5 separate regions of the Homo sapiens genome follow, and regions 2, 3, 4 and 5 are each linked to region 1. Evidence: fine-mapped expression QTL. A gene starts in region 1. Each other region holds a variant in brackets. All regions are shown on one strand. Distances are between the middles of the regions.

What was found. PIP is the estimated chance that this variant, and not a neighbour inherited with it, causes the effect. A credible set is the group of variants that fine-mapping cannot tell apart.
Region 2: its variant is the best candidate, but not a certain one, in a credible set for the expression of ARSG in whole blood (TOPMed, PIP 0.59).
Region 3: its variant is the best candidate, but not a certain one, in a credible set for the expression of ARSG in monocytes (TOPMed, PIP 0.83).
Region 4: its variant is the best candidate, but not a certain one, in a credible set for the expression of ARSG in whole blood (TOPMed, PIP 0.52).
Region 5: its variant is the best candidate, but not a certain one, in a credible set for the expression of ARSG in whole blood (INTERVAL, PIP 0.54).

Annotation. Positions count from the first base shown.
Region 1 is chr17:68,288,345-68,294,676 of GRCh38, forward strand. It overlaps ARSG (arylsulfatase G), which reads left to right and starts at 3,151. Exons shown (of 12, transcript NM_001267727.2): 1 at 3,151-3,224. It overlaps SLC16A6 (solute carrier family 16 member 6), which reads right to left and starts at 2,783. Exons shown (of 6, transcript NM_004694.5): 1 at 2,742-2,783. RefSeq lists silencers at 2,919-3,608, 2,975-3,149 and an enhancer at 4,009-4,238.
Region 2 is chr17:68,343,489-68,349,820 of GRCh38, forward strand. ARSG (arylsulfatase G) reads left to right here. Exons shown (of 12, transcript NM_001267727.2): 3 at 116-303; 4 at 3,637-3,684. Among named protein-coding and RNA genes, the nearest start is that of ARSG, 55 kb to the left of the region's middle. RefSeq lists enhancers at 853-1,353, 1,354-1,854, 3,126-3,235, 3,256-3,395. The variant C/T (reference allele first, on the strand shown) is at 3,247.
Region 3 is chr17:68,360,372-68,366,703 of GRCh38, forward strand. The region is part of intron 6 of ARSG (arylsulfatase G); the gene reads left to right. Among named protein-coding and RNA genes, the nearest start is that of MIR635, 61 kb to the right of the region's middle. The variant C/CT (reference allele first, on the strand shown) is at 3,096.
Region 4 is chr17:68,416,331-68,422,662 of GRCh38, forward strand. It overlaps ARSG (arylsulfatase G), which reads left to right. Exons shown (of 12, transcript NM_001267727.2): 12 at 3,859-4,484. The coding sequence ends at 4,133. WIPI1 (WD repeat domain, phosphoinositide interacting 1) reads right to left here. Exons shown (of 13, transcript NM_017983.7): 13 at 4,951-5,490. The coding sequence ends at 5,443. It also overlaps a transcript of PRKAR1A not described here. Among named protein-coding and RNA genes, the nearest start is that of MIR635, 5.1 kb to the right of the region's middle. The variant C/T (reference allele first, on the strand shown) is at 4,040.
Region 5 is chr17:68,423,895-68,427,894 of GRCh38, forward strand. It overlaps WIPI1 (WD repeat domain, phosphoinositide interacting 1), which reads right to left. Exons shown (of 13, transcript NM_017983.7): 11 at 3,241-3,359; 12 at 2,181-2,281. MIR635 (microRNA 635) reads right to left here and starts at 654; the gene lies at 557-654. It also overlaps a transcript of ARSG not described here and a transcript of PRKAR1A not described here. The variant A/G (reference allele first, on the strand shown) is at 2,123.

The DNA.
Region 1 (6,332 bases):
TCTGTCTCTGCAAACAAAGCAACTGAGGCCTGAATTTTGAACTCATTTATGCAGAAGCCTCTGTAAGTTCCAGAATATAAAAGTTTATCTGTCCACTTTGGTCTGTGGCCATGTGAATTTATCTGACGGGTAGGGATATTTTTCAGCTGTGTAGGGATCTAACTGGTGAGGCGAGCTGAGTCATCCTGCCCATCAACCCCTGCTTTACGGATGATGGAATTTAGGCAAATCACTTCACTTCCCCATTTTCAATGTCAATGTAAAATCAAGGTAAATGTAAAAAAGGGAGTTGAACTAGACTCTGATGAGCTTAGATCTCTTCCTGCCCTAATAGTCTATACTTCTATGACAGCCTTTGACCGTCACTTGCTTTAATCCTTCTAAGCCCTTTGAAGGCAAGGCCGAAGAGTTGGTCTTCTTAAAGCTCTTAGGCCATATTTGTTAATTTCTGTGTACCATTAACTGGCTGCACAGTTATGGAAACCACAGAATCCTGAACTTCTAGAACTTCTATCATCTGTAAAGCATGGGTTGTCAGGGGAGTCTCTCAAGCCTTTTCCAACTTACAAAACTCGACAATTCTGAATGGGGGTTCCCGGCAGCCATCTTCCCTTCACCCTAGTGTTCTTCTGGAGGAAGTACAATGACACAATCCACGGGCAGTTTGGAGGATTTCCTAGTAGCATGTGGTTAAGTGTCCCCTTAAATAAATGAGTATTGGCCGGGTGCGGTAGCTCATGCCTATAATCCCAGCAATTAGGGAGGCCGAAGCAGGCAGATTACTTGAGCCCAGGAGTTTGAGACCAACCCGGGCAACATAGTGAGGCTGTGTCTCTACAAAAAAATTAAAAAATGAGGTGGGAGGATCGCTTGAGCCCGGGAGGTCGAGGCTGCAATGAGCAGAGATGACGCTACTGCACTCCCATGATGGGAGTGAGACCCTGCCTCTAAACAAATAAATAAGTAGGTATCTTGCCAAAGGCTTGGAAATCCGCTATCCTTGGGAGTTTCACTGTGATTTAATTTGTCGAGAGAAGATTTGGCCCGAGGGCATGAAAAAAATTGTATTATTGTAGACCATCAGAGTGTTATTCCAGGGTCAGCTAAGAGCAAGTTTCAAAACGCAGGCTCTGGATGGAAATGGGGTGGCTACTGTTGTAGGCAGACCTCGAGCAAAAGCACTGCGGATTTCTCTTCTTCTTAAAGGCGTAGCCCGGAGAACAGCTTTGACAAGTTGTTTCTGGCCCAAGTTGTCAAAACCAGTCTGTATTTGGCTAAAGTTCATCTGCATTCTCTATTTAAAAAAAATTTCCAAACCTAACCTGGATAGCTGCCTCACGATGTTGAATCACTGGCTACAACCGAGTCACCATTTTACAAGACTATGGTGTTGAAACCTGAGCCCCTAATTTAAGTGTCCTCCTCAGGAGTTCCACTGAGGAAAGTCCTTTTTCGGAAACCACAGAAGGAAAACTCAGGGTTAGTGGTACTCATTACACTGGAAGGAGCTTTTCCACTTGGCTGCATTGTTTATTTACACACTGTAAGTTCCTATTTTGGACACTCTTCCCTTAATTATGAGAAGAGGGGTTTCTATTATATCATCTGGCCGGATGTATTGTTGACCCCAAAAATGCCACATAACGGTGCTTGGGACATGGGGAGATGCATGGTTTAGAGATTTCAGCATAAGCACTTGGCATCTTTTTTACAAGCAAGACACCTATCTTACCATGATTTGCAAAAACAATCAGATCACTGAGAAATCTCATTCCCGGGGTAGAAACCATCTCCTGCGAGAAGGAGCTGGCACGGAGTGTCTAACCGTGCAAACAAAACCGGCTTCCAGGTTGACAAGTTGTAATTGCTCTTCCCCAGTTGGCTCCGGGGAGCTTTTTCTAAGACTGACGCCCCCCATGTTTGGTGACATTTTATATACGCCACCTAACAAACTTCTATGACCTGTCTTGCTAGGGTGGGGGGAATAAAAAGAAAAGACGACAACAACCTAGAAGGAAATAACCCATTTCCTCTGCAAAACCATCTTCCCTTGCTACGGAACTGCTTGGCGACACCAGCGCTTTCCTGCGGTTGGCAGCCCGGGAACCTTGAAGTTGCGCGGGACCGGCCGTCAGCCGCTGACAGTTCTGACAGTCCAGGTGGAGGACCCGCGCTCTGCCGGGAAATCCCCGGCTTCCCGCTGGGGACAAACGGTGGCCGCCGCAGGGAGTGCTGTGTTTGGGGGTCGGGGGAGGCAGGGAGCCCCACTTTCCCTCGCGCTGCCTCAGTGCCCGGCCTGCGTGCGCGCGCCAGCCTGGGGTAGGAAGGTACCTCTGACATTTCGCTCCTGCGACGCGCAGGCAACTTCATGCGGAAAATCCGCGGAGGGGCTGAGCCTGGAGCCCCCGACTCTTCCGACGTCCCGGAGCCCCCAACCCGGGGCAGGGGGCACTCAAAGGCCAGGCGTGCCTTTAGGTATCTTCCGGGACCCAACTGTACCAGGGTCACGGACATTCAACTCTCAGCTACCCACACCGGCGCGAGCGCGTCATCCCGGTGGCCCTGGGCATTCCTAACTGTCAGAGCGAATATTTTTGGGAATAACCTCTCCAAAATGTGAAGATGTTCAGTGGTCTCCTCCGCCTCCCATCACAAAAAAAGGCCCCAACACATATTTTTTAAAAAACAACCCACATCCCACAATCAAACTTTTAAACATGTAAAATAATAAACCAACTCACCAAGTTAGAAGGGAAGAGAATAAACCCCCAAAGGCTCCCAATAAGGCGGAGGCTTGGCCTCCCCCTCCTTATAAGCCGCTCGGTAACATGAGAAAAGGATTAACCCCTTAGGGGGCGGGCCCGACTCTAGCGCAAGTTGGCTCGGGCTGGTGAGGCCCGAGCGCCCGGGCCCTCCACCCACTCCCGCGACTCGGGCACCCGAGCCACACCCTCCCCCCGCCCCCCACCCCGGCCGCCTGCGACCCGGGCCGTGCGTGCTGCCGCCCGCGCCCCGGCCCCGCGTCGCTGCCTAGCTCTTATCCTATACCGGCTGCAGCCGGTCTCCGCCGGCCTCGGGGGCGCGCCGCCGCCGACCATGTGCTGCGAGCGCTGAGCGCAGCCAAGGAGGGGGCCTGCCTGGCGCGCGCGCGCCGTCCCACGTGGACCTGAGCCGCGCCGGTCGCGCGCCCGCCAGCCTGCCGCCTGGGCTGGGGGTCACGAAAGGTAACCGCGTCGCGGTCCGGGGCCGGGCCGCCCCCGCCAGCGCCGCCGGGGTCCTTGGCACAACGCCCCGATCTCCCAACCCGGGTGCGCCTCTGCGCGCGTGACCCGCCCAGACCCCGGAGCTTTGCTGCAACGCTAGTAGGAGCGCGAGCGTGCAGGGTGTTGGGGGTGCCTGCATCCTGTCTCGGAGCACCTCGGCCAGGCGCGAGCGCGCGGGTCCCCGTCCCCACCCCCGGGCGCCTTCCCGGCGCGCCCACCGCCCAGTCCCGCCCGCGCCCTGAGGATTTAGGGATTTAGCGGCGAGGGGGAACACGCGCGCGCCGGGGCTGATCCCGCGCGGCGCTCGCGGCTGCGGCGGCTTCGCGCCCGCCCCGGGCAGAACAGGTTCCTTCCAGTTTGGGTGTGAGCTGCGCGCGCGGCGCCTGAGTTCCTCCTGCAGCGCCCACTTCCCCCAGTTTCGTCAACTCGCGCACCCCCACAGTTCCCCTTCCGGCAGTGGGGAGGGAGTGTCGCAGTGGGCCCCAGGGAGCGAGCGGCCGGGCCGCTGCGGGTGCCTTGCTTCCCCCACTTTGCTGCACCGGCAGCAGCGGCAGCAACAGCATCCGCGTTGCGCGAAAGGAATGTGAGCAGCCGGGCTGAGTCAGCATCCCCGGCCCGGGGCGCGCGCGCACCCTCCAGGCAGTGGCGGCGTCGGCACAGGTGCATGGCTCCCATACCCGCGGGGAGCCCTCTGTAAGGGACCTGGAGGTTTAGACAGTCCGTGCCCCTCATCCCGTAGTCCCCGACCCCAAGGTCACCGTGAACTAAGCGGATGATGCACGCGAAATCTCAGGAGCTCCTCATGGGGACAAAGCATGTGTCAGATCCTAGACATTTCAGAGCCTGCGGGGGCGCAAACTTAGCTTCTTGGTCTCTACCTCACATCCCGAGGGCAAATTTGGAAACTGCTCGGAAGCAAAGGCCATGTTATTTGCATTCGTATGCAGACTTTGGCGCCGGCTGCTGCCTTCATTGGGGTTCGGAGAATGTGGTTCTGATGTCAGAAACTCAAGAGAGCCTAGTTTGGGAGTGCATGCACGGAGGGTCGCCACCGGGAGGAGTCGGCGATCTGAATTTTAATAAAAATCCTTCCTTGCTCGCTGAGTTCTCTCACCATTTTGGGATAGGCTCTCCTGAGTTAAATGCCATCCTTTGCCGTTGACAAGTTCTGGTTGTGTAAGTGGGGAGAAGATTCGTTGGTACAGGGTGCCTTGTATGGCCAGTAGTGTACAGCCAAGGGGCCGCTGAGCAGCTTTGCAACCTTGTAGGCGTAATTTAACCTCGTAGAGCGTTAATTTCTCCAGATCTGTAAAATGGGGATGGAGGTGGTATTCCCAGAATTGGAGGGTTTAATTTATGGTACTTGTAAAGTGCGGATCGCAGTGACTGGCATTTGGTAAGGCCTCAGTACCCATTAGCTCTTGCTGCTGTTACGATTTATGCTTTACCAAGGCCAATTAATTGCTGACTCCAACACACTCCCTGTGAGAGAGAGCCCTTTTTTGAGTTGTTCTTCAAAGGATCCATATATAATGATATTTAGAAACTGATTTGAACACTTCATGCTAATGCAGGGCTGCCTGTAAGATAATCTTTGATATTTAGGATCTTACACTTTAATACTTAGGACCTGTTACTGTACTCTATATGGAAATATCATGTGCAATATGACAGCATATTCTGTATGTCTTAGGAACCTAAAGGTGCAGCCAGCCATTTATACCTGAGTGACTCGAAGCAAGTCACATAAAATCTCTGTACTTCAGTCTCTTGATTTAAAAAATGACTCAAATTATACCTAAATCCTCAGGAGTGAATGAATGATTGGAAAAATCACATCTGAATGTTTGAGCAAGTGAAACCTGGCTTTTGGGGAGCATGATTCTAATAATAATAATAATAATAATAATAGATTTTTGTTACTAATGTGTTACTATTCTTATATTTTATTAATATTAATCTTTTTTAAATGTTTGCTTTGTCCTCAACACTGCATTAAGTGCCATACATGTAATGCAATGTTAACCGCATCAGTAACCTTCTGTAGTTGACACTCATTATTCCCATTTTACAGATGAGGAAAGTGGAGGCACTGAGCACTGGAGGGATTGACCTAAGGTTACACCATGTTTATAGATACACACTAGCACTTTTTACCACTAGAGCTCATCCAAAGATGACATTTGCCATCTGTGTTTGAATAATGGAGAGGTAGCTGGAAACCCAACCTACGCACAGCCTTGCTAGTCACAAAAAAGTCACGCAACATGACTTTTGCCCACCCTAGTTAGAGGCTGGCTTCACCTTGTTCCCTCAATCCTAGTGAGACCAAGCGTGAAAACCCCTGCTTTTTTAACTTCTCCAGAGAAAGCACTGCATTGCCATGCTAATCAACGCCCCCTTGCCCCCAAACAAAACTAACTCTGTTTAGTTCTAAATAAGAACAAAAGAACCTTTGGAGTCTGGAGTACAGGACCAGAAAAATCAGGAAATCAAGTGAAGGGCTCAGCTCCCCTCTTAGCCTCTCCTGTTGTGTCTGCCTGATCCCAAGTGGCAGGCAGAGCCCCCTCTCGGCTTTCCTTTACAGTGGGCAAGACCATCATGATGCCCTTAAGAAGACCCCCAACATCTTCTTGGGGAAAAAGTTGGCTCTTCAGAGCTGTCCCCAAGGCTCCCTCTTTTAGCCCTCTTGCATAGGGTCATTTGCATGAGAACAGATTCCTTTGTGTAAAGTTGGCCTGCCTGTTCTCTGTCCACGTTTATAGTCCTTCAAGTCTTCGTGTTGGGTTGCTAGGCAGATATGACCCTGGCTTGCAAATAAGCTCACTGCATTTACCAGCCTGTGAGAACTTCAACTTGGGTAAGTAGACTGAAAGGAATCTGGTCTGGACCTCTGGGAAGAGGGTCCCGCAAGCCTGCTTTTGGGGGCTGACTCTTCAGGGCAGCCATCAAAGGGGGAGAATATGTGAAGGGGGCTTCCATGGGAGGCTTCGATGGCCCACCCACCCTTCCATTCTTCCTCTTCCAGTCTCTGTTCCACCCACCATGCTCCCACCCAGGGGCTTGTGT
Region 2 (6,332 bases), 55 kb after region 1:
GGGTGATCTTTGATCTTTGAGCACTGAAATTGCAGGAACTGAGTGGGCACTGCCTTTTCTTTTACTCTGGCTTCCTGTGGTTGGTGCGGTCCTGACCACTGTCCTTTCCCTGCAGGTTTGTGGATTTCCATGCAGCTGCCTCCACCTGCTCACCCTCCCGGGCTTCCTTGCTCACCGGCCGGCTTGGCCTTCGCAATGGAGTCACACGCAACTTTGCAGTCACTTCTGTGGGAGGCCTTCCGCTCAACGAGACCACCTTGGCAGAGGTGCTGCAGCAGGCGGGTTACGTCACTGGGATAATAGGTAACTCTGGGCCCCGTCTGCCTGTTGCATTTACTGCAGTGGCAGCCGCCTTGTGTTTGCAAATTCCCAACATACTCCCTGTCTGCTTTCCTGTTCATGTCTTGCTGTGTGAGTTAGGGATGCTCTCAGCTATAAGGAACTGAAAAGACCTAACAGTGAATTAAAACATACATGGAGCTATTTTCCTCCCATTATAGCAAGTTTTGTGGTAACTGGTTGCTTTCATTAATTCAGCTGCTCAAAGATGCTGCCGGGAGCCAGGTGCTCTCACTCGATCTTTCTGCTCTGCCATCCTTAGCATGTTGGTGTTTGGTGTTTGTCCTCATGCTCACTGCCTCATGACTGCCATCCAGCGACTTTAGGCCCCTGAACCACGATTTGGCTCAAGGAAGGAAGAAGAGAAGGGAGATGGCTCAGCTCTGCCTGCACCCCAAGAATTGCACTTATATCTTATTGGCCAGAGCTGGGTCTTTTGGCCACGCCTCACTGCTGCACTCCCAGATTGAGAAACTGGGGACAGCATTGTAGTGACTGACTTGAACTTGGGCATGGTAATCTTCCTCCCTTTGAACAAAACCACAGTTCTATTAGCAGGATACATGGGGACATGGGCATTGCTGGGAGACCAGCAACGTCTGCCACATTGTCCAATGACTCCCTCTCCTTTAAAACATTTTTTTAGGCATCTCTTACTCAGCATTTATTATGTGCTAGGCACTGGGCTGTTTATTGGCATGAAGATGATTATTGTATTGGCAAGAGAACTGAGTTTCAGGCCGGTGAAGAGAAGCTGCCTAACCTGGAGGGGTGGAGGCCAGGTCTAGGCAGGTATATCTGTTCCCAGCCTTGCCCTGAGGCTCTGCCTCACTGCCCTTCTCCCCTCCAGGAGCCAAGACAGCCCAGTATTCCCAGAAGTATCCTCAGCTCCCTGTGTTTGTTAGTCTAACTCTCAAAGAGCTGGACCCCTTGGGATCCCTGCCTCCTCCACTATACAGGAAATTGCAAGGGAGGGAGGGTGCAACCACAAGCGGGTGGCCCTGTGGGCATGCCTTGGGTGTCTGAACCGTGTGAACCTGTGGGAGGTTGTTCTACCCAGACCCAGGGCTGGTGCCTCTGCTATTGGCCCTTTTATCCCACTCTGGGTTAAAGAGCCTGATATCCTTTTACGGAAGCTCAACCTGGAGTGCGGCATTCTTTGTCCCAGAAGGGGTAAGTCCCAGGCTGTAGGAGAGACCAATTAAGGTCACACACTTCTCTTTTTCCAATCCCTTTCTTCCCATACCCCAAGGAGTCATTATGTTAACAACATCAACACCAAGACACCATTTGTGAAACTGCCACTGTGGGCTGACTCTCCTTACTAGGCCAGTTACATGCGTCCATGTAAACCTCACAGCCAGCTGAACGAAGTGGCTCACGCCTGTAATCCCAGCACTATGGAAGGCCGAGGTGGGAGGATCCCTCGAGCCCAGGAGATCGAGACCAGCCTGGGCACCATAGTGAGACTCTGTATCTACAAATAAGTAAATAAATAATAAAACTCATAGCCAGGAAGAGTTAGGTCCCAGGGCTGTCCCAGACTCAGCCCCTATGCTGCAGAAGTGGGGCTGGCTTCTTCTGGAGCTGAATTTGACCTCACTGGCCCCTCCGTCTTCATGCCTTTAAACTCCCAGTAAGCAACTGTTTGCAGCTTGACTGTTTAGCTGCATTCCTCACCCCCTCACCACTCACGACACCTTTTGCACATCCTGGGCAGGATATTTAAGCATATCCAGCTGTTGCAATTATGAACTAAAGTACACTTTTAGGAAAAATTAAAGACCCACCAAAGGAATATCAGATCCTTTTACAACACTCACACTTTGCTTCTAATCTTGGTCCATGTTTATGTGTTGCCTAGCTGTGCGAATACCACTGGGCTCCACTTTTCCCCCTTTCACATTATTCTATGTTTCCATGTCATATAATTTTACATAGTATAATTTTTATGATTAAACAATACTTTTCATAATTTTAATATAATGTCATGTTCTCATGTAATGTTTAATCCAAATATTTCACATAATGCTTAATACATTTCTCTCAATCTTTTTTATTTATTTGGGACAAAGTCTTACTCTGTCACCCAGGCTGGAGTACAGTGGCTCAATCTCTGCCCACTGCAACCCCCACCTCCCGGGTTCAAGTGATTCTCCTGCCTCAGCCTCCCGAGTAGTTGGGATTACAGGCGTGCACCACCACACCCAGCTAATTTTTGTATTTTTAGTAGAGATAAGGTTTTGCCACGTTGCCCAGGCTAGTCTCAAACTCCTGGCCTCATGTGATCCGCCTGCCTCGGCCTCCCAAAGTGCTGGGATTACAGACATGAGCCACTCAATTGAGAGAAATTGAGAGCCCATTTCTCTCAATTTTTTATTAATCTTTTTTTTCAATCCCATAGAGCAGTTGCAGGGAGGGAATAATGGACTCCTAGAGGCCCTTCATCCAGTTTCACCGATTCTTAATTTTTGCTACATGCAGTTGTCTTGAAAAAATAGATCGATAGTTCCTTATTGAGGCCACATCAAATAATGTACTTAGACATACTCCTGTGGTTGCCCGTTAATCTCTCGTTTGAGCGGTTTAATGCTGCCAGCGTCTCAATCTTTGTACCACATTCTTTTCTTTGCCCCCTCACCATGGGGGTGGCGTCCCTGGGGTCTACTCCTCAGAGCGGAAGAGCAGATCAGAGAGTTCTGACACTGTCAGAGCTCTTGCCACACATTGCCCGATTATTCCCCCAGACTGAGCGCATTTGCAGACCGAGGAGCAGCAGGGTGTCTGAGTTTCCTCATTTGCTGCCCCGTAGGTGTCTCGGTGCTTGAACTGCGGGCTGCTGATGTTGGCCAGAGAGGAAGATGATGAAACCAGGCAGGAAGCGGGCATTTCTGAGACGATGTGGGG[C/T]GGTGCACCTGCACCCTGGGCCTCCTGGTGCCTTTGCAGGGCCCCAGCGCGGGAGGGCAAAGTGAAGGAGCCCATGTGGGGTTGCTGTGTCTGTGGAGCCCTCTTTGAGGGGCAGAGGCTCAGGCTTCTCCGGGCTCCTGGTGATGGGCTGTCTTCCCCTTTCACTGTGGTTTCCCGTGTGAGTCTGGGGTCATCCTTTATGTGTCCCTGTGGACACCGTCTCGGCCCCAGAGAGCAAAGCCTGGCTTGTACACCACATTGCAGCTTCTTTTGGCTTGTCCACAGTGCGAGGCGAAGCTAATGGAGAGCTGAGTGTGTGATCAGCTCCTCAGGGGGCTGTGGTACCCCTATGGGGATTCCTCTGAAAATCTCTCTTATGTTTTTCTACAGGCAAATGGCATCTTGGACACCACGGCTCTTATCACCCCAACTTCCGTGGTAAGAATTCTTTTGGGGATTTGTTACCTGGGAAACAGAAAATAAAGGTCTCTGTGTAAGACTCCATGAACAGCTAAGCCATCCTGTCTCTGGGGGCAACCCTAAGTTAGGACATCTTTGTTCACGAGGTCATTTGAGTGCATTTGGGGTGCCAGGGCTCTCCGGGACCTTACATCCCACTTGCTGGCATCTTCCTTGACTGTCCTTCCTTGGTGCCTGTTTGCCCTTCCAACTGCCCCATCACAGGCCCATCAGCTTTTTTGCCATCTCTCGGTTCTTTACACCTCAGGGAACATTCTGCCCCATGAGGTCCAGACATGGCTAATCTGGGAAGAAGTAAAAATTGACTGATGGGTTCACCGAAGCAGGAAACCTGGCCATAGACCCAAACAGGAGATGCTGCCTCTTGGCCTCTTCCTGCAGCCTTTGCTTCCTCACCCTCTGGCCTTGGGGAAGTAGGCCAAGATCAAGCTACCAAAGCTGGTTCTCTGAAAATCACTTTGCTGAAGGGCGGATTCTCCAAACGTCCAATTCACTGAATTACTGATGGTTTTTCAAAGTTGCAGTTCGTGCCACTGACCTTTTCCATTTCCTATAGGAAGCCGTGGACTTTCTCTTAAAGGCATTTACCATGATCTCAGCTTTGGTGGCTTCTCCTGTCCCTGGCCCCTTCCTCTTCTGCCATTTTATAAGCAAATGTGATTCTCTGACTATTTTGCAGACTTCTCCCCTCCCCTGCCCCAGTATCTCTCCCTATCTCTATGGAAAACGGCTGAATTGTTCTGTCCTAGACCTGGCGGAAGGTTTGCATTGGAAGATTTTTGCATTTGGAGAATGACTTTCAGAGGGTTGGCCTGGAGCCAGCCTTCAGCAGGGACCCACTGGTCAGTAACCCCATTGGCTGACGTCTTCTTCAACTCTTACCTCCCCTTTGATGCTCATTCCTCTCCCTCTCCTCCCTTGAGCCCCTTTTCCCAGGTGGGCATTCGTGGCATCATCCACACATGCTTTAAAAAAAATGACAGATGGGAGAAGTGAAGACCTGGCTTTTGCACTCACTAAAAATTACTCCAGAACTTGTTTCCTCCTTGGTCTTCAGTTTTCTCACTTGACAGTTGAGGGGTTGGACCAGATCAGGTGTTGGCACCTTGAGGGCATATTCCTGTGGTGAGGGGATACTGAGACCAGCTCCTATGCAGCAGGAAGTGGTACCATGATGGATCTGGTGTCTCCTGTGGGTGTGGGAAGTGGGAAGAAAGAGTACCTCCTACCTATTTGCTCTTTGGACCAGACAATTCCAAAAAGCCTTCTGGCATGGACACTCTGAGGTTTCTTCATGCTTATGTCCAAGTTCACTCCTTTTCCCTCCTGCCTCTTACATCCTCTCTGCGGTGCACTGTCCTGGTTCCCCGTCTCACTCTGTCTCCCAGGCTAGAGTGCAGTGGCATGATCTCGGCTCACTGCAACCTCCGCCTCCCAGGTTCAAGTGATTCTCATGCCTCAGCCTCCCAAGTAGCTGGGACTACAGGTGCCCGCCACCATGCCTGGTTAATCTTTTGATTAAAAGCTTGGGTTGGAGAAGAGATAGAATGAAGGAGGAAGTCGGAAAAAAACTTCACATGCCCTGGGTTATGCCAAGCACACTTACACATTCCTTCTAAGCACCCACGCTCCTCTTGCTGCCCTGGGCTGTTCCTCAGGTCAGGGCTCCTGCAAACACAACGAGGTCTTTCTAACACTGGGGTATGAGGATGCCTATGATTTAGATCAGTGGTTGGCATAGACCTGTGGTCCAAATCCAGTATGCTAGCTGTTTTTGTAAATAAAATTTTATTAGAAAACAGCAAGGCCAAGCATGGTGGCTCACGCCTGTAATCCCAGCACTTTGGGAGGCTGAGGTGGGTGGATCACCTGAGGTCAGGAGTTTGAGATCAGCCAACATGGTGAACCCCTGTCTCTACTAAAAAAATAAAAAATTAGCTCAGCACAGTGGTGCATGCCTGTAACCCCAGCTATTTGGGAGGCTGAGGCAGGGGAACCGCTTGAACCCAGGAGGTGGAGGTTGCAGTGAGTTGAGATTGCACCACTCCAGCCTAGGCGACAAAACTGAAACTCCATCTCAAGAAAAAAAAAGAAAAAAAGAAAACAGCCAATATGTACAGTCATTTGTGTACATATTGTCTGTGGGTGTGTTTGCGCTACAATGGCAGAGTTGAGTGGCCTTAACAGAGATCATCTGACCCACAAAACCTAAAATGTTTACTATTTGGCTCTTTCCGGCAGAAGTTTGCTCTCCTTGGTGGAGAGTCATCCTGATACCAGATGCAGTAGCATTTCAGGGCTATGTTGTGTACCTAGGGGGTAGCTAAATCCATTTGTGCAAACCAAGTTAGCATGAAGATATCAATTTTTTAAAAATACAACAAACAGGCTGGGCATGGTGGCTCATGCCTATAGTCCCAGCACTTTGGGAGGCCGAGGCAGGTGGATTACTTGAGGTCAGCAGTTTGCAACCAGCCTGGCCAACATGCTGAAATCCCATCTCTACAAAAATACAAAGATTAGCTGGGCGTGGTGACAGGTGCCTGTAGTCCCAGCTACTCGGGAGGCTGAAGCACGAGAATCGCTTGAACCCAGGAGGTGGAGGT
Region 3 (6,332 bases), 72 kb after region 1:
GCCCCTCCCCCACCTTGGACCTGTTTTTCAAAACCACCAGCTGTCCCTAGAGTGTGGCTTCCCGCTCTTCCTTGACAAGGGGGCCCACCCTGGGACTTAGGGAGTTTTTACTTGGGTCTTTAGTTGGCTTTAGTGTTTCACCCAAGACCCTCGACGTAGTACTTGGTTATCACTGCTGGTCATTCAGTTTACTTGACTTTAGACCCTTCATCTGGTAGCAATGCTGAATGCTAATGCTTGATTGGAGTTTTTTAAGCAGCAGGCAAATCTCTGAATGGGAAAAGGAGCCGGTAGAAGGCATGACTCCTGGGTCACAGAGCTAGCTGGGCCTCTGTTCCTTTTGAGGTCTGGGACCGTGCATTGCACCTACGCGGGCAATACAGGGCTTGATAAGCAGGAGTGTATCGGGCATCAGGATGAGCAGCGGCCCAGCATGTTTGAAATCAGACATTTCTTAGTTTTCTTTTTTTGAGACTGAGTCTCGCTCTTGTCACCCAGACTGGAGTGCAGTGTTGCAATCTTGGCGCACTGCAACCTCTGCCTCCTGGGTTCAAGCGATTCTCCTGCCTCAGCCTCCCGAGTAGCTGGGATTACAGGCGCCCGCCACCACACCCAGCTAATTTTTGTATTTTTAGTAGAGACGGCGTTTCACCATGTTGGCCAAGCTTGTCTCGAACTCCCAACCTCAGGTGATCTACCTGCCTCGGCCTCCCAAAGTGCTGGGATTACGGGTGTGAGCTACCGTGCCCGGCCTGAAATCAGACCTTTCAAACAAATCAATCTTCCATGGTGTCATGTACTACACATTGAAATCCTAACCCTTAATGGGGTGGTATTAGGAGGTGGGGCCATTAGGAGGAAATTAGGTTTAGATAAGATCATGAGAGTGAAGCCCCCATGTTGGGATTAGTGTTTGTATTAAAAGAAGAGAAAGAGACTCTGGTGTGCTCTCTCCTGGCCATGTGAGGATACAGTGGGAAGACACTTGTCTGTTAATAAGCCAAGAATCAGCCCCTTACCAGACAGTGGACTTCCCAGCCTCTAGAACTGGGAGACGTAAAGTCAGGCGTGGTGGCTCATGCCTGTAATCCCAACACTTTGGGAGGCCAAGGGTAGGAGATTGCTTGAGCTCAGGCGTTCAAGACCAGTCTGCACAACATAGTGAGACCACCCCCATCTCTACAAAAAACACAACAAAACAAACAAACAAACAAACAAATAGGTCCTTCTGCAGTCTAGAACCTGGAAAAAGAAAAAAAAGGCCAGGCACGGTGGCTCACGCCTGTAATCCCAGCACTTTGGGAGGCCGAGGTGGGTAGATCACATGCAGTCAGAAGAAGTTCGAGATCAGCCTGGCCAACATGGTGAAACCCCATCTCTATTAAAGATACAAAAATTAGCCGGTCATGGTGGCACATGCCTGTAATCCCAGCTACTTGAGAGGCTGAGGTAGGAGAATGCTTGAACCCAGGAGACGGAGGTTGCAGTGAGCCGAGATCATGCCATTACACTCCAGCCTGGGCAACAAGAGCGAAACTCTCAGAAAGAACCATGACAACAACAAACAAACAAAAACAACAACAACAACAAAACCCAAAAAACAGAATTGGGAGAAGTCGATGGTTGTATACTAAGCCACCCCAGGGAGTGGTATTTTGTTATAGCGTCCCTAGCAGGCTAAGACACAGGACACGCATCTTTTGGAACTAGGTCCTCAGGATGCAGAGATGAAAGACATGTTCCAGCCTTCATGAGCTCATGCCTGGGATCTGCAGAATTCTCCGTTTTCCTTGACTCACTATCCGTCTTCATTGCTGGCCCCCATGCTTGCCTAAGTGCCCCTGCTGTGGTGCTGCCCCCTCCTCATCTTGCCTCTCACCCGGCTCCCACCCGACACCAACCTATGTCAGGGATCCAGGTTCAGATCCAAAGACCATACTCACCCCCAACCCCTCTTTCTCCTTTCTCCTGTTTGAATGCAGAGACGGATCTCTAGTGAGTGAGAGAATAAACTAATGACTAGCGAGGCAATCATATCGAACGTCTCCCCCAGGGCTATGTTCTCTGCCTTGTGTGGTCACCACACACCGTCCTCCAGGTCCCACTGTCTCAGGGATCTTTCCCTCCCCTCCACACCCCAAACCCCATTTGGTTCCCCTGTTACACCTTCCACAGCAACTTGTATTTCTCTTCCATCTCTCCTACGGGCTGAGTATTCCGTATCTGGAATGCTTGGGACCAGAAGTATTTCAGATTTTGGATTTTTAAAGAGTTTGGACTATTTGCATTATACTTAACCGGCTGAGCATCCCTAATCCTCCCATGAGTATTTCCTTTGAGTGTCAGGTCAGTGCTCAAACAGTTTCGGAGTTTGGAGTATTTTGGATTTTCAGATTTGGGATGCGCTGCCTATACTAACTTTTTAAATAATCATCTTATTTATATTTTAGTTGCCTTTTTCTCTTTCCTGGTCTCAATTAGATGTTAAACTCCAAGAGGGTGGAAATCATATCTATTGTGCTCATTCCTCTGTCCCCAGTGCCCAGTTAGAGCTTAATAAATATTTAATGAATGAATGAATGAATGAGTGAGTTACTTATCCAGCTCCAGTGATGTGCTGGTGCTGTGCCAGGGATTCAAACGTGAATTAGACATGTCCAGTCTCTGAGTGATTCCCAAGCTAGTGGGGAAACAGATATGTAAAAACATGGCTTTAATGCAGGTTGTTTGTATCTTATTAATACCGCAAGAAGCAGGGAAAAGGGCTATGGCAGGGATGGGGGCAGAGAGGAGGCAGCCAACCATGACCTGGGAGCAAAGGAGGAGGACTATTGGTGGCTTTGGAATTGGATCTTAAGAACTGATTAAGTGTTTTGGGGCAAGATAACAGGGAGAATACTGCTGAGAGAGGAATAACATAGATGAGGCACAGGAAGTAGGTGAGGTGCTTGGGACACTGGCATATAGAAAGAGTCTTTGACAGGGAAGGAAGGTCAGGCTGGAAGGGACGGAGATAGGGAAAGCTGCAAAGACTGGGTGAGGAGTTTGGATTGACCCTGCAGGCTGCAATGAGCCCTAGTACGTTTCTTTTGTTT[C/CT]TTTCTTCTTTCTTTTTTGAGATGGAGTTTTGCTCTCGTTGCCCAGGCTGGAGTGCAATGGCGCGATCTCGGCTCACCGCAACCTCTGCCTCCCAGGTTCAAGCAATTCTCCTGCCTCAGCCTCCCGAGTAGCTGGGATTACAGGCATGCACCACCATGCCCAGCTAATTTTGTATTTTTAGTAGAGATGGGGTTTCTTCATGTTGGTCAGGCTGGTCTCGAACTCCTGACCTTAGGTGATCCAACTGCCTCGGCCTCCCAAAGTGCTGGGATTACAGGCGTGAGCCATCGTGCCTGGCCGAGCCCTAGTACGTTTCTAAATAGAGATCTGCCAGATCAAGTCTGGGTTAGAGAAGGTTGTCTGTGATGCCAGGGTCTAGTGGAAGATGGCAAAATGGTGGGGCGGGGGACAAGTGGTTATTGCAGCAGTCCATTTCAGAGAGACCCCTTGCCCATCCATCCCCAGGGAGCCACCACCAGAGAGGCCAGTGGGCTGAGAGCTGCAGGTGTTCATTTCCCCCTGCATGAGGGAAGCCCTGCCTTCACCTCCAGGCCTGCCTCCCTCCACCCAGGCACCATCTGGGGACACTTCTTGAGAGATGGGTGCCTCTCACCTGCCCTCTTCCATTTCGGATCAGATGATTTTCCCCAGCCTTAACGGTCCCTGCACCATAATCTTCTCCACACCCTGTCTCCACACCCTGCCCCATCCTCTTGCTCTCCTGGAATGTCCCCTCTGTCATCTTACTTGTTTTTTTCCTTCTCTACTCACCATTCCACTTGTTTTCCCACAAAAATAGCATGTGTTCCCTTTAGTAATCTCGGAAAACTGAGACAAGCAAACAAAAAAAAATCACCCTGAATTCCATCCCAGAGATAACCTGTTTTTTGTTGTTGTTGTTGTTGTTTTGTTTTTTGTTTATTTGAGACAGAGTCTTGCTCTGTTGCCTAGGCTGGAGTGCAGTGGCACAATCTGGGCTCACTGCAACCTCCGCCTCCTGGGTTCAAGCCATTCTCTTGCTGGCTGGGATTACAGGCACGCGTCACCATGCCTGGCTAATTTTTGTATTTTTAGTAGAGACAGGGTTTCACCATGTTGGCCAGGCTGGTCTTGAACTCCTGACCTCAGGTGATCCACCCACCTCGGCCTTCCAAAAGTTCTGGGATTACAAGTGTGAGGATAACCTGTTTTAATACCTCCGAGTATGTTCTTCTAGCCTCATTCTATGCTGGTGCATAAACATATGTTTCCCTGGTTTTATTAAGGTATAGTTGAAATGAATGTGTTTTAGAAAACAAAAGTGGAGTCACACTGTGATATAATCAGTATTTTTTTAAAGCATCAGGTGTCCCCCCACTCTATTTTCCATTCAGCACAGGTGCATAATGAAGAGGTGGCTTGCGGGACAGATGCCCCCAAGGGACTAGTCTGTGTGGGCTCTGCCTGATGCCATGTTTTGGAATCTAGCCTGGCATCAGGATGCAGGGAGAGAGGTACATCCTTGGGCATCATTTATGCTTACTACTGCTGGCATGTATTCAACATTCTTAACAAGGAAGCGGTCGGGCGCAGTGGCTCATGCCTGTAACCCCAGCACTTTGGGAGGCTAAGGCAGGCAGATCACTTGAAGTCAGGAGTTCGAGACCAGCCTGGCCAACATGGCAAAACCTCATCTCTACTAAAAATACAAAAATTAGCCAGGTGTGGTGGCGTGCATGCCTGTAGTCCCAGCTACTCGGGAGGCTGAGGCAGGAGAATTGCTTGAACCTGGGAGGCGGAGGTTGTAGTGAGCCAAGATCGCGCCACTGCACTCCAGCTTGGGAGACAGAGCGAGACTCCGTCTCAGAAACAAAAAACAACAACAAAATAAGCTACCATTTATTAGATGCTTAGTGTGGGAAGTTACACAACTTTGTTGGGGAGGTCTGATTGTCCCCATTTTATAGATGACAGAGGTTAAGTTAATTGTCCAGGGCTACACAGTCATGAAATAACAAATCTGGAGGTTTGGATGCAGGATTCTCAAGCCTGTGCTCTTCATCAGCCTGTGCTCTGCCATCTCTCATAACTGCCTGTCTCTGTAAGCCTCTGGCTCAGGGTGCTAATGTGACTTTGATAATGGGTGAGAGTTTGGAAGATGATGATGGATGATGAAGGGTGGACAGCAGGACCACCCCTCGCCCATACACATGGTGAGCTGATTTCTAAGAAAACAGCTGCAGTCTGTAGCATTTGCCAATTCCTGAGGTGTAAATACTCAATCTCACCATGGCTGATTTCCAGCTATGGAGATGTCACCGAATATGGCATTGAAAAATGATGGGCAGTAGCAAGCCATTGTGTGTTATTTCCACCACACAGATACAATAGATGTAAATAACCCCATGAGCCTACATCATAGCAGAATGTAGTAGTTGGGAAGTGATAAATGGTGAGAATGTACTACTTTCAAAAAATATTATTGATTTATTTAATTTATTTTTTTTTTGAGACAGAGTCTCGCTCTGTCGCCCAGGCTGGAGTGCAGTGCACAATCTTGGCTCACTGCAACCTCTGCCTCCTGGTTTCAAGTGGTTCTCCCTGCCTCAGCCTCCCGAGTAGCTGGGATTACAGGCACCTGCCACCACGCCTGGCTAATTTTTGTATTTGTTAGTAGAGGCAGGGTTTTGCCATCTTGGCCCAGCTGGTCTCAAACTCCTGACCTCAAATGATCCGCCTGCCTCGGCCTCCCAAAGTGCTGGGATTACAGGTGTGAGCCACTACGCCTGGCAAAAAAATAAAATAAAATAAAATTTATTTAATTGTGGACTTTTATAATTGAATTTTTAGCAATGGCCATGTTTAACAACTGGTTTGCAAAATACTTGAAATTTGAGCCAGATCTAGGCACCACTGCAATATGGAATCTACCTGAAAATTAAAAAAAGCCACCCCCACTGGCCAGGCACTGCCCTGTGCAGGGTAACCAGCCAGTAGATTGTAAGCTGGAAATAAGGACCCATTCACTCAGCAGGATGTCCTGATGCAGGCCACAACCTGCACAACTGTACATGACCATCCCTGGGAGAGTTGGCATCAGGCACTGCAAATCATTGCTGTACGAAAAAACTAGGCAAGAATGGAGATGTTTTCTATCTGCACTGTCCAAGCTGCTAGCCTCTAGCCACCTGCTGCTGCTGAGCATTTGAAATGTGGCTAGGAATTTATGTATGTGTGTGTGTGTGTGTGTGTGTGTG
Region 4 (6,332 bases), 130 kb after region 1:
GCTGAAGATATGGCCCCAGTCCTTTCTAGCTTGTAGGGTATCTGCTGTTAATCCTGATAGGTTTTCCTTTATAGGATACCTGGTATTTTTGTCTCATGTTTTTCTTTATAGGTTACCTGGTGATGTTTTTGCAATGAATTTCCCAGGTGTTCTTTGAGCTTCTTGTATTTGGATGTCTAGGTTTCTAGCAAGGCCAGGGAAGTTTTCCTTGATTATTCCCCCAAATATGTTTTCCAAACTTTTAGATTTCTCTTCTTCCTCAGGAACACCAATTATTCTTAGATTTGGTCGTTTAACATAATCCCAGCCTTCTTGGAGGCTTTGTTCATATTTTCTTATTCTTTTTCCTTTGTCTTTGTTGGATTGGGTTAAGTCAAAGACCTTGTCTTCGAGCTCTGAATTTCTTTCTTCTACTTGTTCAATTCTATTGCTGAGACTTTCCAGAGCATTTTGCATTACTAGAAGTATGTCCAATGTTTCCTGATGTTTTAACTGTTTTTTCTTTATTCTATCTATTTCCTTGAATATTTCTCCCTTCACTTCTTGTATTGATTTTTGGATTTCCTTGCATTGGGCTTCACCTTTCTCTGGTGCCTCCCTAATTAGCTTAATAACTAACCTCCTGAATTCTTTTTCAGGTTAATCAGGGATTTTTTTCTTGGTTTGGATCCATTGCTGGTGAGCTAGTGTGATTTTTTGGGGAGTGTCAAAGAGCCTTGTTTTGTCATATTAATTACCAGAGTTGGTTTTCTGGTTCCTTCTCATTTGGGTAGGTTATTATTAAGTCTTAGTAGTTTTGGTGAGCCTGGGCCCTTGGACTGTGAACTTCACAAGTGCTTCTTAGTCTATCCCTTCCCTCCCCTTAGGTGGAACAGCTAGAGTGGCTAGAGCTGGGTATCCCCCTACCCTTAGGTCAGTTAGGCTGTGAGAAAAACCTAAGTAATTTAAGCTCTGGTAAATTAGTTTCTCCTGAGGGCAGGCCTTGTTAAGAAAACTAGAATGTTTTGGTATATTTAAAAATTACTTTTCTCCTACCCCTTTTGGAAGGATGAAGAGATTTTTCTCCAGTATTTACTGTAAGAACTTGGTTGAGCTCCTGGAGGTAAAACTCACAAAAGTGTGTTGTGTTTTGGGTGCCGCGGTGGGGGGTGGCGCTTGATAACTGGGCCCCACTGGAGTTTTTCATCTCTCAGACTTGTCCACACTGAGCCTCCAGCAATTTGTCAATTACAGTTCAGGGCTTCCCTACTCCTGGCACTGGTTCTTGCAGAGGTTTCTGCTTGTGGGTTTCTGCTCTGTTAAGTTGTGATTGTTTCTATTTGCTTGTCTGTCTCTCTAATTTTGGGGGCAGTAGTTTGCCCTGTGACTTCACTTCTCCAAAAGACCTAATAAGAGTTGCTGAATTTTTTTTTTTTTTTTTTTTTTTTTTTTTTTTGAGATGGAGTCTCACATTGTTGCCTGGGCTGGAGTGCAGTGGCACGATCTCGGCTCCCAGGTTCACGTGGTTCTCCTGCCTCAGCCTCCCAGGTAGCCGGGATTACAGGTGCCCACCACCATGCCCAGATAATTTTTTATATTTTTAGTAGAGACGGGGTTTTACCATGTTGGCCAGACTGGTCTCAAACTCCTGACCTCATGATCCGCCTGCCTCAACCTCCCAAACTGCTGGGATTACAGGCGTGAGCCACCACACCCGGCTGAGTTGTTGATTTTTTAGTTTGTTCAGCTTTTTACTTGTTAGAATGAAGTGATGACTGCCGACCTCCTTATGTGCCAGACTAGAAACTGGGAGTCTCCTATTTAGTCGTCCTTAAAAATTGTAAGCTGGACATTGTTGGTGATGCATTGTAGCAATTCTGATTTCTGTTACCTGAGAGTGTTGATTTTTGTTTTCACTGGCAGCTAATCAGTAGTCAGTTCCCTTGAACTTATAAAGCCTTAGTTTTACACTTTGTTAGGACGAGTCTTTCAGATTTTTCCCTTGATCTTAGGCAGATCCCTCAGTCCTGGGACACAGTCTCTACTCCTAGCATGAACTGTTTGTCAAAGCTCATGTCACTGCCCTGTACTGGCAATGAAGAATAATCAAATTCTATTCCAAACTGTAGGCAAAGACAACAACTATTAATCTCTACTGATCAACTTGACTCTCAGCCACAGGTGGAAAACCAGTAATAAAAAAGGGTTGTCTAAAGGCTTTGAGATCTACCCATTCTCCTAAATATTTCAAATTTTATTTCTGGCCAGATTGGACCAGAAGGCTGAATCCTTAGGTGGTATGGCTTTGCCCCTATAGACTTCCTTGTATTGAGTTGCATGTTGGCATCTGCCCTCATCATATAGTAAAGGATGTGATAAGAAGTCGTCAGTGGAACCATCCTAATCTCAGTTTTATTTTTCATAAGAATGCCAGTGAGCATTCCATCCTACAGGGTCCCCTGTAGGAGAAGGAGCCACTGGAAGAATTTCTCTCAGATTTTAGTGCCAGAAAAAGCTCTGCTTCTCCTGAGCAACTGATAAGTTTCTATCTCATTAATGTTTGGCTGCTGCTAAGCTCAGAAGCAAAGTCAGTGTTTAGGAACTCTTGTAATTTTGAGGGCTATCTTTTGCTTTAATTCCCTTTGTTTATTTAATTATGTCATATTTATTTCCATCAGACCCTTAACTGCTTTTTCTATAGCAAAGCCAAAAAAAAAAAAAAAAAGTCATCGGAATCATAAAGAGCCAAGGAAGCTGCTATCATTCCAAACATTTTTGTCCTTCCTCTTCTGGATGGCTTTCACAGCCAGATTCGAATCCACGTAAGACTGTCATCTTCAACCCAAAGTGAAATGACTCACCTGCCTTTCTACTTGATTCACCAATTGGTAGTCAAGAAATCGATTTTCAAAAAAATCAAATTTACTCCTAAAGGGCAGAGGTTAAAGATACTTTAAAAAATTATATCCTGGCTGGTGTGGTGGCTCACGCCTGTAATCCCAGCACTTTGGGAGGCCGAAGTGGGCAGATCATGAGGTTAGGAGTTCGAGACCAGCCTGGCCAACAGACCAGCCTGGCCAATATGGTGAAACGCCATCTCTACTAAAAATACAAAAATTAGCCGAGCGTGGTGGCAGGTGCCTGTGATCCCAGCTACTCAGGAGGCTGAGGCAGGAGAATTGCTTGAACCTGGGAGGCAGAGGTTGCAGTGAGCTGAAGATTGTGCCATTGCACTCCAGCCTGGGTGACAGAGCGAGACTCCAACTTGAAAAAATAATTATATCCTGATTTTGTGTCAATAAAGATACTTGAATGAATGTTCTACTGGCCCTGAAGGCGAGTTCAAGGAGAACTTCCAAATCATTTTAGTGTGGCTGCAGTGGTTCCTGCTGATAATCCCAGCATTTTGGGAGGCTGGGACAGGAGGATTGCTTGAGGCCAGGAGTTTGAGACCAGCTTGAGGAACATAGCGGGACCCTGTCTCTGGAAAAAAAAAAAAAAAGTTGGGCGTGGTGGTGCATGCCTGTAGCCCCATCTACTTGGGAGGCTGAAGTGGGAGGATCACTTGAGCCCAAAAAGGCTGAAGCTGCAGTGAGCTAGGATCACGCTACTGCATTCCAGCCTGGGCAACGAAGCCAGACCCTGCCTCAAAAAACAAAAACAGAAATGAAAAAAGCAAAACATTTTGGACCACAGGATCATCACTGGAAGGAGCAAATAGATTCTCAAGGTAATATTTCTTTGACAGAGAGAGCCATCATTGGAACATTTGGTTATCTGGTATGTTTGAATTAATGTAGAATCACTCGCAGCTCTCGTCTTTACAACACAGGGCAACTGTCAGGGTTAGCGAGGCATTTGTTGTCATTCCCTCTCTAGGTGGAGCCAGGGCGTGTGATGGGAGCACGGGGCCTGAGCTGCAGCATAAGTTTCCTCTGATTTTCAACCTGGAAGACGATACCGCAGAAGCTGTGCCCCTAGAAAGAGGTGGTGCGGAGTACCAGGCTGTGCTGCCCGAGGTCAGAAAGGTTCTTGCAGACGTCCTCCAAGACATTGCCAA[C/T]GACAACATCTCCAGCGCAGATTACACTCAGGACCCTTCAGTAACTCCCTGCTGTAATCCCTACCAAATTGCCTGCCGCTGTCAAGCCGCATAACAGACCAATTTTTATTCCACGAGGAGGAGTACCTGGAAATTAGGCAAGTTTGCTTCCAAATTTCATTTTTACCCTCTTTACAAACACACGCTTTAGTTTAGTCTTGGAGTTTAGTTTTGGAGTTAGCCTTGCATATCCCTTCTGTATCCTGTCCCTCCTCCACGCCGACCCGAGAGCAGCTGAGCTGCGCTGGCTCTGGGCAGGGAGTGTGCCTTAATGGGAAGCACACGGGCTTTGGAGTCAGGCACAGGTGCCAGCTCCAGCTTTTGAACTTGGGCAATTGTTTAACCTAACCTGCAAGTTGATTTTGAGGGTTAAATAAAGGCATACATGAAAATGCCTGGCAAATTACCTGACACAGAGCAGACATTCAATACATTTTAGTTTCCTTGTTTCTCTGGTTCCCAGTTTCTCTGGTCATTTTGGTGTAAATCCATTCTAATTAGTATTTAGGGCAGAGCTTCTCTCTCTTTTCTCTTTTTTTCCTTCCACAAACCAGTGTACTCACTGGTCTCCATCTTTAATATGCAAACAAATCACCTGGGATCTTGTGAGAATCCGGATTCCGTCTCAGTAGGGCTCGAGTAGATCCTGAAATCCTACATTTCTATCAAACAATGCCTTGAGGAGCACAGATTTAGACCAAAGTTAGGTCGTTTTCCAGATCTCAGAGCAGACGAGTCCATGGATAAGTCTGTGGCCCAATCCCCTTCCTCTCCTTTTAAGGGTGAAATGACTGCATTTAAAAGAAGTTAAAGAGTTCCTCCTGTCCCCTATAACCACAAGGAAACAAAAAAATATATAAAAACCTCAAAAATGCATTGCCATGATTTTATTATTAGTGTCCAAAATGGGACTCCCAAGTAATAAATGATTTATTCCAGCCACAGCCAAAAAAGACTTTGCCTGGCTAAAAGAGTCTCTCTCTAAGTATGTAATATACAAGAAATACAATTCAAAGAGATGTTCCTATAAGTACATTTTTTACACGGCATATATTTAAAAAGGAGGCCCCTTTTAATATAAAATTCCGGTTATATACCAATATGGTTAATTAGCATTTACACTATAGTTTGAACGTATTTTAAATAGCATGATGTGTATACAATGTCTCCCGCGCCCATTGGCAACCAGGGTCGTGGGAAGCTTGGTGAGGAGTTAACCAGGTCCTGTGGTTTAAGCAGTGGAGCACCCGGGATTCCTGCCCCCCTTTCTGCTCACACAATTGCACTCCATTCTTCCGCCTTCCTTGTTTTCTCCAAAACCACCTGATAGGGGGGATGTCCTGATTTCTGAGGTGTGCTTCTCATCATGACTGCTTCGTTTTGCCCTTCTGATTTCCACGGCACAAGATTATCTACCAAAATCAAAACAGAATGGCCTTACTCTTCTCAGGAAGAGGCTGGTAGGCAGGTGCATTATCAACAGGTCTGTGCCCATGCAGAGTGAGCAGGGAGAGGCTGGGCACTGTGGAATTTTTCTGTCTGAACTCGCTCATGGCCACAGAATGGTCACCCAGCTTATTTAGGTGTAGACAAGTATGACACAGTTCTAGAAAATACTGACTATAAAAATGTCTCTGTGTGTGTGTGTATGTATTTATATGTATATGTATATATTTTTAAAAGGCTCATCTTACTTGTAAACATGGACTGCTCAATCACTATTAAAAAGTCAGTTTAGGCTGGGCGCGGTGGCTCACGCCTGTAATCCCAGAACTTTGGGAGGCTGAGGTGGGTGGATCACTAGGTCAGGAGTTTGAGACCAGCCTGGCCAACATGGTGAAACCCCATCGCTACTAAAAAATACAAAAATTAGCCGGGCATGGTGGCGCTCACCTGTAATCCCAGCTACTCGGGAGGCTGAGGCAGGAGAGAATCGCTTGAACCGGGGAGGTGGAGGCTGCAGTGAGCCGAGATCGCACCACTGCACTCCAGCCTGGGCGATGGAGCAAGACTCCATCTCAAAAAAAAAAAAGTCAGTTTAGGCTGGGCGCAGTGGCTCACACCTGTAATCCCAGCACTTTAGGAGGCTGAGGGGGGTGATCACCTGAGGTCAGGAGTTTGAGACCAGCCTGGCCAACATGGTGAAATCCTGTCTCTACTAAAAATACAAAATTTAGCTGGGCATGGTAGCATGCCTGAAACCCCAGCTACTTGGGAGGCTGAGGCACTAGAATCACTTGAACCTAGGAGGTGG
Region 5 (4,000 bases), 130 kb after region 1:
ATATTTTATAGTAGTTACAGACTTTTACCAAAATTAGTGAAACGGAACCTAGTGAGTGTCTGGATGTGGTAAACCCTGACAGAGTAGAATGGTCACATTTGTCCCCACGGTGTCTGACCTAGAGTGCTCTGGATCCTGGAAGCCTCGACTTCAGGTAAATAACCACCGCCTCTTGAGGGTGCAGAAGAACGCCCTTTAAGGCCAGTTGGGGCCATGAGAACCCAAAGGTAAAACAACTGGTTTATAGTTAGGCAGCATGCCAACAGAGGTTTTGAAGTTTATAATTAGTATTTTTAAGAACAACTGCTCTCCGCCACTGAGATATAAACTTCACTTGCCAGCCACGTCTCTGACAACCTGCCTATTGAAAGCCAGAAATGTAAAAGCTCACGCTGCGACCGACCCGCAGAGCCGATGTGGGAAATCACAAAACAACAGCCCCAGCCCTGCATGCAGGGCCCCACCGCAGCTTTGTTTTCTAAGCCAAATGTGCTCACTAGAGGGTTCCACGGATCTGCGGGAGAAAGAAGCCAGACCTGCACTCCATCCTTTTACAATTGGAAGCTCAATGGACACAAAACAATGATCAGGAGAAGTTTCCATAACAAAGCCTAATGGACATTGTTTCAGTGCCCAAGTGGCAGCTCCTCTCTGGCTCTAGGAGCTGATGCTCCAAGTCTTGGCCCAAACACTACTTCCGGCCGGGTGCGGCGGTTCACGCCTGTAATCCTAGCACTTTGGGAGGCCGAGACGAGTGGATCACTTGAGGTCAGGAGTTTGAGACCAGCGTGACCAACATGGTGAAACCCCGTCTCTACTAAAAATACAAAATATTAGTTGGGCATGGTGGCGCACATCTGTAATTGCAGCTACTCGGGAGGCTGAGGCAGGAGAATTGCTTGAACCCAGGAGGCAGAGGCTGCAGCGAGCCGAGATCACACCACTGCACTCCAGCCTGGGTGACAGAGCAAGACTCCGTCTCAAAAACAAAACAAAACAAATCAGTACTTCCATCTCGAAATGATTTCAGGTTGACTATCTGGGATGTTTTGACTGAAGCTCACAAGAGCGGTCTATATGTTACTCCAGATGGGAGCCTGAAGAATCAGCAGTTAAGGAAGCCCCAGCAGGCTCTCAGGAGGGAATCTTGTCTTCAGTTCCAGGTGATGGAAGAAGCCACGCCCAGCACTCAGCCAGCCCCGAGGGCCCTAGCTGTGGGAACAGGCTGAGCAGGTTGCTGGGAAACCCAGCTAAAGGTGCTCGGGCAAGCTCCTGCCCTGCACCTGCTGCCCTCCACAGAGCACACAATTGCTTTTCTTTTCTTTTTGAGATAGAGTCTCACTCTTTCACCTAGGCTGGAGTGCAGTGGCACAATCAGAGCTCACTGCAGCCTCGACCTCCCAGGCTCAGGTGATCCTCCCATCTCAGCGTCCCGAATAGCTGGGACTACAGGCACGTGACACCACACCCGGCTAATTTTTTCTTTTCTTTTTTTTTTTTTTTTTTGGTGGAGATGGGGTTTTGCTGTGTTGCCCAGGCTGGTCTCTAACTCCTGGGCTCAAGCAATCCTCCAGCCTCGGCCTCCCAAAGTGCTGGGATTACAGGTGTGAGCCACCGCACCCGGCCACTTGTTTCTTAATGAGTGTCTGCAACTGCTGGGGAGGTGCGGGTCTGCCGGCCAGAGCTGCAGGTAAGTGAGGGTCAAGCTGGTTCACAGAGTGCAGCAACTCAGCTCAGAGTCCTGAACACACAGCCCAGCCCTCTGAAACCATCCCCTCCAGCACAAGGAAGGCAGCATTCTGCAAACGCATCCATGGGAGCCTCAGGAAAATAAGTTTTAGACAAGTCACGTGTTCCTACCTTCCAGGCAGCAAAGTCAGTGCTACAGAAGCAAAGTAAGGGATCGCAGGCCTCTGGCTGGAGGGAGGCCACCAAGACTCCCTGGATTAGTATTCGGTGACTCTAATGCCATCAGGGTTTAGCTCGACACCTAAAGCCTACTCTGTAGGATTCGAAGCACACAGTACAACAAATATCCTATGGCTTTCCAAATACTAGAGCAGAGAATTAGTTGTTATAGATTAGAAAACAGGGAAAGGGACTCTGCCTCTCGTATGAGGCG[A/G]AGGTTTCCTTCTAAGCACACAGACTGAGCCGCCCAGTTACGGGTTCCTAATGCTCACAGGAGGAAACTCATTCTCATCATCAAGACACACTGGTCCCGTCGCAAACTCATGTTCAGGAATAACTTCTCCTCGCAGCGCCCCGCCGTCCTCAGAATAACCTGGAAACCAAGAAAGAGACATGAAACAAGCACTGGGGATCTGCTTTTATGCCATGACCTGGCGGGTGGGGAGCGGGGGCTCAAATAAAGGGCAAAGGAAGCAAAGGGGCTGTCTGTCTTCCCCCTGGAGGTACTGTGCCTAGGACAAGTCATAATCCTCACCATCTGCCATCTTTAAGCCTGACCTGCCTTTCCACTTCAGATGCCTGAGGCATCCTACCTCTTTGAATTTTTCTTTGTTGAGGTAGGGTCTCAGTATGTTGCCCAGGCTGGTCTCGAACTCCTGAGCCTAAGGGATCCTTCTGCCTCAATTTAACTTCCTGAGTGGCTAGGACTACAGGCTCTTTGGAAATTTTAGTTTAGTTTTTATTTTTTGAAACAGAGTCTCACTCTTTCACCCAGGCTGGAGTGCAGTGGTATGATCTCAGCTCACTGCAATCTCCGCCTCTCTGGTTCAAGCAATTCTCCTGCCTCAGCCTCCGGAGTAGCTGGGATTGCAAGTGTGTGCCAACATGCCCAGCTAATTTTTCTATTTTTTAAGTAGAGATGGGGTTTCACCATGTTGGCTAGGCTGGTCTCAAACCCCTGGCCTCCAGTGATCCGCTGGCCTCAGCCTCCCAAAGTGCTGGGATTACAGGTGTGAGCCAATGTGCCTGGCCTCATTGGAATTTTTGAAGAGGCAAAGGGTTAACACCACTTGTTAGGAAAAAGACCGTATCGTGTGATGCCTTGCCAGGTTGAGGGTCCCAGGTTTAAAGGCTATTACCATGGCCTCACCTGTGAGAAAATAAAAAATTCAAGGAGAGCACTCCACCCCCAGGTAACAGTGAAGGGGGAAGGGGAGGGAGGGCACTCCACCCCCAGGTAACAGTGAAGGGGGAAGGGGAGGGAGCGTGCAGGGAGAAGGGGAGGGAGGTCACTGTTGGAGATGCTCCCCTGTTGGCCCCGTGTCCACCCACCTGGCACCGTGGAGGCTGAAGATGCACTTGGTCTGGCTACGGTCGCTGCATAAGACTGAGGTAAGGAAGGTCTGAGGTCATTTTCTTTATTCTCTTCTGTTGTTCCTGAGCCAAGCAAGCTACTTGTGACAATCAAGAGGAGGTGAAAGAAAAAAGAAATCATCATATATCTAGGACACCTTCCAAAGGAAAAGCATGAAGAAGCCTGTGCTCAGCTCTGTGGGTTATTTATTTATTTTTGAGGCAGGGTCTTGCTCTATTGCCCAGGCTGGAGTGCAGTGGCGCAATCTCGGCTCACTGCAACCTCCGCCTCCTGGGTTCAAGCGATTCTCCTGCCTCAGCCTCCCGAGTAGCTGCGACTACAGGCACCCACCACAGCGCCTGGCTAATTTTTGTATTTTTAGTAGAGACTGGGTTTCACCATGTTGGCCAGGCTGGTCTCGAACTCCTGACCTCAGGTGATCCGCCCGCCAACTCTGTGGGTTTAAATTGTAGACCTACCCACACGCTGCTGGGCCAGGATGAGCTGAAGTGACCTGCAACTGCCAGGGGCAGTCACACACCGTCAAAATGGCCTCTTTCTCTTACATTGGCTAGACAAAGATTAGTCCTCTGCTCTTCCCAGTACACACAGGTGAGGACATGCTAGCAAGGAGAGCAGCCATCGGTGGGGGGCGGTGGCAGCTCTGGTGCCCTGGCCACAGCAGGAGAGCTCAGTCTGTGCCTGTTCACAGAAGGCATGAGTGCTTTTCTTTTGTTT